Linked DNA regions of Homo sapiens. The protein of the gene in region 1 interacts with the protein of each later gene in a pairwise test. Each region holds a gene or a part of one and is shown on either strand. Other genes may lie near its edges.

Region 1 (3,817 bases):
AAAACTCCTGACCTCAGGTGATCCGCCCACCTTGGCCTCTCAAAGTGCTGGGATTACAGGCTTCAGCCACTGTGCCGGGCTGGTTTTTACATTTTTGAATAGTTGAAAATCAAAAGAAGGTTAGTATTTTGTGACATGTGAAAATTATGTGAAACTCAAATTTCAGTGTCCATAAAATTTTTTTTGTTGTTTTTGAGACAGAGTCTCACTCTGTCACCCAGGCTGGGGTACAATGGCATGATCTTGGCTCACTGCAACCTCTGCCTCCCAAGTTCAAGCGATTCTCCTGCCTCAACCTCCCAGTAGCTGGAATTACAGGCACGTGCCATCACGCCCGGCTCATTTTTTTTTTTTTTTTTTGAGACAGAGTCCTGCTCTCTGTTGCTCAGGCTAGAGTACAGTGGTGCGATCTCAGCTCACTGCAAGCTCCGCCTCCCGGGTTCACGCCATCCTCCTGCCTCAGCCTCTCGAGTAGCTGGGACTACAGGCGCCCGCCGCCACACCTGGCTAATTTTTGTATTTTTAGTAGAGACAGGGTTTCACCGTGTTAGCCAGGATGGTCTTGATCTCCTGACCTTGTGATCCGCCCGCCTCGGCCTCTTAAAATGTTGGGATTACAGGTGTGAGCCACCGCGCCTGGCCCATTTCTGTATTTTTAGTAGAGATGGGGTTTCACCATGTTGGCCAGGCTGGTCTTGAACTCCTGATCTCAAGTGATCTGCCTGCCTCAGCCTCCCAAAGTGCTGAGATTACAGGCGTGAGCCACCGCACCTGGCCCACTGTCCATAAAGCTTTGCCGGAACACAGCTATACCTGTCAGTTTACGTCTCCTCTGTGGCTGCTTTCTGCTACAAAGGTCTTACCTACAGAGCCCACAAGCCACCTGGCCCTTTAGAGACAGAATTTGCTGGGCCCTGGTCTATACCATCGCTGATATGACCAGCTCTTTTTCTATGAAGTGGACAATTGTCTTTGTAGTAGGTTGAAAAGTGTGCCCCAAAAGATAGGTCCAAGCCCTAACCACTGCTCTGGAACTTGGAAGTGTGACCTTATTTGGAAAGAGTCTCTGCAGATGTAATTAAGTTGGGATCATCTTGGATTTAAGGTAGGTCCTAAATCACATGGCAGGTGTCCTGAGAAGGGAGAGAGAGACCTGAGACCCACAGAAACACAGGGGAGAAAGCTGCGTAAGGATGGAGGCAGAGATTAGAGCGAGGCGCCCACAAGCCCAGGGAGGCCTGGAGCCAGCAGAAGTGGGCGGGGCAGGAAGGAGCCTCCCTGGAACGCAGGGAGGAAGTGCAGTCCTGCCCACACTTTGATTTTGCACCTCTGGTCTCCAGCACCGTGAGATGAGCTTCTGCGGTCTGGGCCACCCGGTCTGTGCTGCGTTGTTACAGCAGCCTCCTGACACCCACATGGCTGTGATTATCAACAGTCTCCCGAAGTCACGATGTCCACAGAAAACCTTTGGGTGGAGAACCTTCTGGTCTCCCCAGCATCATCGGGCGCCCGCCATGCCCCGTGCCTCACCTGGAATGGCCATCCACTGGGCTATCGCTGACAGCGCAGTGCTCTGCACCTGCTCCTCCGGGACCACCTGGTCCACTATGCCCACCTGCAGGGCCTCCGCCGGCGGGAAGAGCAGCCCCAGCTGCAGGGCACGCTCCGCCGCCCGGTGCCCGATGGTGTTCTCCAGGGTGTCTTTCAACCTGGAAATGCAGACACCCACTCACCACATGGCCCCAGGCGGGTCTGTTCCCTCCACAACAAGCATGGAGCGTGGCTGCAGCCCAGGGCCTTACCAGAAAGGGGCGATGATGCCCAGCTGGGTCTCATTGAGTCCTATGCAGTACCTGGGGTTGTCCGCCAGGATGCGGTAGTCACAGGTCAGGGCCACCAGGCAGCCTCCAGCGGGGCAGGCTCCCTGCAGGGAGAGGCCGGACAGGGCTCTTAGGTGCTGCTGGTCCCAACCACATTCCAGAGGGCCAGGTCCAAGGAAGGAGGGCCTGTGCCCTTGGCGCACCCCGACCCCCGCAGGGTTCAACACCCACAATGGTCTGGGCTGGGCTGGGTGTGCACTGGGAAATGGATGAGGAAGGAACTGGCCCCTTAGCGCTCGGCAAGGAGGGTCTGAGGCTCGTCCTCAGCCGAGGGTCATTAGTTCTTCGGCAACAGATAAATCACTTTTAAAAACCATTCAGTTAGGGGAGCAAGTCGCTTGTCCTCTCAGTGCTTTTACTCAATGCTAAAATGCCACACAAGCATTTAGTCATAACTGTCATGCCCCAAGGGGGCCCCGATACCACCCCAGCAGCTAGCGCAACCAGGATGTCCTGGGAACCCCACACTCACCCTGTGGTCACTGCAGGTACCCACTGCCCCGCGCAGGACCCATCCTGTCTGCATGGCCGTGCACCCTTGAGGCTTCCTCTCACACCAGCCCTCCCCTCCACCAGGCTCCGGCCCACACCCGGCTTGTCACAGCCACCCCGCAGGACACCCTGGTTCCTGAGGTTAAGCCCCCGTGTTGTTCTCGGCTTCCCTGGCCTTCCCCCAGAAGGGATGGAGTGATGTTTCCAAAATGTGGGTCCGATCACCCACTCACCCACACAGCCTCCACCCAGGCTGGCATCAACCCCAGGCCCTGGTCCCTACCCACTGGCTCTTTTCTGGGTCTTGTCTGATTGACCCAGGCCAGGGCCCTCACCCGAGGCCCACCTTTCTCAACACGCCCCGTGGTCTGCGATGGCGCTCACCTGTGCACATCTCAGGGCCTCTCCAACCGTCCCCTTCCCCTGTGAGAGATTCCAAGGGCAGGACAGTGTCTGTCCCACCCCCTGGCGCTGGCCCAGAACAGCCAGCGAGGCCACCTGGGAGTGGGGACACTCACGTTGATGGCGGAGACCAGCACCAGGTTGGACTGGTACAACCGCAGCCACAGCTCCTGAACGGCCTTCCAGTACCCAGCGTAGTGGGCGGGGCTCCTCCCACACATCTCCGTCAGGTCCAGGCCGGCCGAGAAGACACCCGGGCGGTCCTGCAGGGGGAGCCGGGGCCACATGCCCATCAGAGTCCACCTCCCAGCTGGCATCACAGCAGGAGGGCTGGGGAGCCCAGGTGCACGACGCACAGCAGGGCCAGGTCACGCTCAGGGTGTGGGTGCTGCCCCACAGAGCCAGGACTAGGCGCTCCAGGGACTCGGCCAAGGCTTCTCCTGGACCTGGCTTCCCTGTACTTCCCAGAACATTCTTCCCTTTCCCGCTTCAAACTGGATAGGAGAGGACAGGCAGCGCCAGGCACCTCTCAGGGACATAAGTGCGCCGGCCCTCTGGCTCTGCACGCCTGGCTCGGGCAGAAGAACCCAGAGGTGTGGTGAAGACTCCTGAGAATCCAGAGGAGCTGCACGTTCTGAATCATTTACCCGCAAAGGGCCAAGCAAGCCAGGGACCCCCGTGTGGACCAGGAAGTGCTAGGGTGGGAGAATGATCTGGAATGTGTGGGTTTCTCAGCAGCTACCAAGGAAGGGCGAGGGGTGAGCACAGGTGGAAGGGACCCTCCCACGGCTGGAGTAGCGGGCGCCAGCACAGGAGCCTCAGACTCCCAGTCAGGGCTGCCGGCCAGGGAGGCGGGCTCGGGGAGGAGTGGAGAACCCACCCTGGGGACCCTGCATGGTCACAGCCCCCTGAGCAAATGACAAGGGTACCTTCCCCTCTGCACAACACGGCACGTTTTCCTCCCGAGGGCCAGACCCCCCAAGGCTGTGGGTGAACTTGTTCCTGCAGCTGAACCCAGCTCACCCTGACTCACACAAGCAGAG
Region 2 (3,817 bases), on another chromosome or scaffold:
ACACAGCAAGACTCCGTCTCAAAAAAAAAAAAAAAAATCGGCTGGGCACAGTGGCTCATGCCTGTAATCCCAGCACCTCAGGAGGCCACGGTGGGTGGATTACTGGAGGTCAGGAGTTCAAGACCAGCCTGGCCAACATGGTGAAATCCCATCTCTACTAAAAATACAAAATTAGCCAGGTGTGGTGGCATGCGCCTGTAATCCCAGCTACTGAGGACGTTGAGGCAGGAGAATCGCTTGAACCGGGGAGGCAGAGGCTGCAGTGAGCCAAGACCGTGCCATTGCACTCCGGCCTGGGCAAAAAGAGTGAAACACTATCTCAAAAAAAATAATAATAATAAAAATCAAATCATAGGGTACTCCTTGGCCTATATTTTTTTAAAAAATCAGAAAAAAATACTGACATGACAGCTTGTAAAAAATGTCCCCTGCACACATCAATCCCTGTGACCCAGAGTGAAGGGTGGCCAAAAAGCCAAGAACTAAAGAGCATATAGCTTCAGAGGGTCAAGGCACACAAGAGAAAGAGCTCAAAGCTCAAAACACTAGAGGTATCTAAGTCCAGAGGATTTAAAAGGATGAATTAAAAATAAAAGTTCTTATATAATAAACTAAATATATAAATCTCAAATTAAGAATTAAAATCATTTCCATTTACCTGATTGCTTAGAATTTCTTTCTTTCCACTGAATATTTTTGCATTTGATCTGGTTTTGTCTCTCTTTTCGGAGTCGTTCTAATCTTTGAGCTTGAAAAGAAATATTATAACTGTAAGTTTGTCAATGAAAGTTTACCATAAACAAAGACATAATTAACTACCTTTACATGAATAAAGATGTTTTATATTGCATATGTAGAGAAAAAGTCATAAAATTTTAAAGGTGGCACCCCTGAAAAGCAAATACCAACAAAAACATGAAAATATTCTTGATTTATAATTGAAATTAGAGGATATAAAACACTAATAGAGATCATAAAGATAGTATTAACATGGAAGAGAATAATAAAATGTGAAAACTTCTGTGATTAATATGACATTTCATTATATAAATCATTAATAACGGTCTTAAAGGAATTTTAATGCACAAATGAACTGAAGTGAATATTACATTACAGGAATAAAATTACTGTTATGAATTACTCTACCCATTTCAAAAATTAAAGATAAATGAACTCAGACTAGACTATTAAAGTTTTAAATATAAAATCCTTTATCTAAAAATCATGAAAATTATAAAATGTCAAAGCTATATAAATTAGCATAGCTTTTCTTCAGTGGGCTGAAACAGTTTATAGGTAGTAAAATAAATGATTTGTATCTTTGTAACATTAGTCAAATCTTAAAAAGAACAATTTTTCTTTTACAAAATTTTAAGATATGCTGCATGGATTAAAAAGTAAATTCTTTGGTCACTAAGACAACCTACAATCTCAATTAATTATTAGCATCTAAGTGCTACCTAAAGAAATTCCAACAAGAGTCACCTAAAATTATGCATTTGTGATTATATTGCCACTGGCTGATCAACCTTCAAAAATCAGTGAACTGATCCTTTAGAGAAATACCACCCAGCATGCACTTAACAACTGCCGCATACAGAGACCACAATAAAAAAGAAAGTCACAATTGATGCCATCTCTTGAAATCAGTTTTCTCTTGCTAATCTTCAGCTTCCTATCCCAGCATTTTGCTAATAGAAAATAAATACATCTCTTTTTCCGCCTCTTTCAAGATAGGAAATTATACACTTCTGCCTTAGCATTGTGGTAGGGAAACACTGAAAATAATCTTACCAGAAATTTAAACTATGCTGGGAAGAGCATTCTGACAATGTCACTATATCTAACCAACACTGAAGAAAACTACATTCAATTGCAATTAATAAATGTGAAGGGTACAGCCAAAGTAATATAATCATAAAGCTCTCAATTTAGCAGCATTCTCCCACTGAAATACATTCAACCTGTCATATAAGATATCATCTCAATAACCTGCAAGGAAGTCAGTTTCAACTAGAGAACTGAAAATCAATGGTTCTAAATTATATTCAAACCTTCACTCAAATCCTATTTTGACAAAAGTTCCTTTAGATACTGGGAAATGCTATTAATTATTTTCATCATGAGAGCAAATTATTCTTATGTCACAGATACTGAATTCTGAACCAAAACTTGAATGTGCCTTTCACAGTAAATTGTATCCAGCTCTACCTCCAATATTCCTTTATGTGTGTTTTACATTTGGACCATGAAAATAAATATGTAAGTATTTTCAGTGTTCTACTATATCTCCTTGCCATTACCTTTCCTGGGAGTTAGCAGGTTACTGCTAATTTGAAGATTATATTTTCTGATTATCTAAAAAAAATTACCTCCTAGAATACCTGTCATATTAGAACTACAATATGTATTCTAAATAATTTGTCTAAGTAAAAAAAAAAGTCCTTGGTTCATCACATTCCCCTTGAAACAAGGCCACCAAAAAAATATAAGTGGGAAAATGGGCAATAAGCTTTTAAAGCTAATGACTAAATACGTGTATACCAAAGTTGAGTGTTTTCAAGCCAGAAAAATCAAAAGGTGATCAATTTAAGAAAATAAAGGCGAAGTATCAAAAACAGGGGCCCCTTTTCTAATCTCACACCCTATGTATAGAATCCTACTAAAACCAGCCCTAACAAATACTCAGGTGTCTCCTCCCATTTCCCCACTCCCCCACAATTCCTCCAGGGGCAAGAAGTGCCTGCTCTCTTTGGGTGGTCACCTCTCTGTATTAAATGCTCTTTATTATGTCAACCTGAAATCTGTCTCCGGGTAGTCTACCTACTGGGACTAATGTTGCTGTGTGAAGACACTCAAAGCCAGTCCACTTGCCTTTCTACACAATGACTTGTTAGAAATGTCCAACATGTCTCTCCTAACCAACTTTTTCACTATCCCCCTTCTGTCTACTTCTAATAATATTCTAGAGGCCCTCTCCATTCGCAGTCGCAGAGATGGAGATGTTGCTCAGACTCACTCTTAGTCTGACATATGCATGTTCCTATTAATACCCGGAAACATCCCCCATTAAGCCTATTCCAATATTATGCATTATTCCATAAGACTGTTTACTGATTTAAAGCTCAGAAGACATGACTAGAACACAATGTTTACCTGTGTTTGAGCGTCTTCTAATACCAAAGTCCCAACTTGAGGTAATATCGACTGACTGGGCATATACATAGCCCTGAGTCTCACCATTGCTTCCCTGAATTTCTGACCCACTGTCTCCAGGCATTGAAGGAGGATGAATCTTCTCTAGGTCAACATCATGATCAATGAGAACCATCTCACACATTCCCGTGTCATCACTGGTCACATGTGACTGTCGAATATGAGCTAGAATGATAGTTGGATTGTCCAAGAAGGCCATCCTTTCTGTGGGCCAATTTCCTTAAAAGGCTATTTTCTCCTCTTCATATTGTTTCACGAGCTCACCTACCTAGAAACATGATGTACACAGCAAATATTTAAGAATAAGGCAGAAAATGACTGAATCATTTTTCAGACACATTCAGTGTAGTAAAATGCCACCTTGAAAATCAACATTTATCCCTGTTCTGTGGAGCTTAAAAGGATTTAGTCTAAGCTGAAAGGAAATCCTTATAAGCACTAGGGGCTGCAGCTCTAGTCAATGAGATCTCTATAGAATCAGAAAGGAAGGCTTGCACTCTTGCAAAACAAATCACAGCAACTCCTTACAAGTCAGGCCACTCGAAGCACATAACTACTGTTAAAACAATATATTTTCCTTTCTTTCTCCCTTCACTATCAT

Evidence for each region.
Region 2: the proteins of ECI1 (region 1) and MAPKAP1 interact in a two-hybrid assay, tested with the Homo sapiens proteins (one large-scale study listed by BioGRID and IntAct).

What each region holds. Positions count from the first base shown.
Region 1 is NC_000016.10:2,241,516-2,245,332, forward strand, and holds part of ECI1 (enoyl-CoA delta isomerase 1, mitochondrial isoform 1 precursor), read right to left. Parts: intron 3,038-3,817; coding exon 2,891-3,037; intron 1,925-2,890; coding exon 1,803-1,924; intron 1,710-1,802; coding exon 1,531-1,709; intron 304-1,530; exon of another isoform or gene 120-303; intron 1-119. UniProt on the Homo sapiens protein: Key enzyme of fatty acid beta-oxidation. Able to isomerize both 3-cis (3Z) and 3-trans (3E) double bonds into the 2-trans (2E) form in a range of enoyl-CoA species, with a preference for (3Z)-enoyl-CoAs over (3E)-enoyl-CoAs.
Region 2 is NC_000009.12:125,669,160-125,672,976, forward strand, and holds part of MAPKAP1 (target of rapamycin complex 2 subunit MAPKAP1), read right to left. Parts: intron 3,485-3,817; 5' UTR 3,416-3,484; coding exon 3,157-3,415; intron 749-3,156; coding exon 659-748; intron 1-658. UniProt on the Homo sapiens protein: Component of the mechanistic target of rapamycin complex 2 (mTORC2), which transduces signals from growth factors to pathways involved in proliferation, cytoskeletal organization, lipogenesis and anabolic output.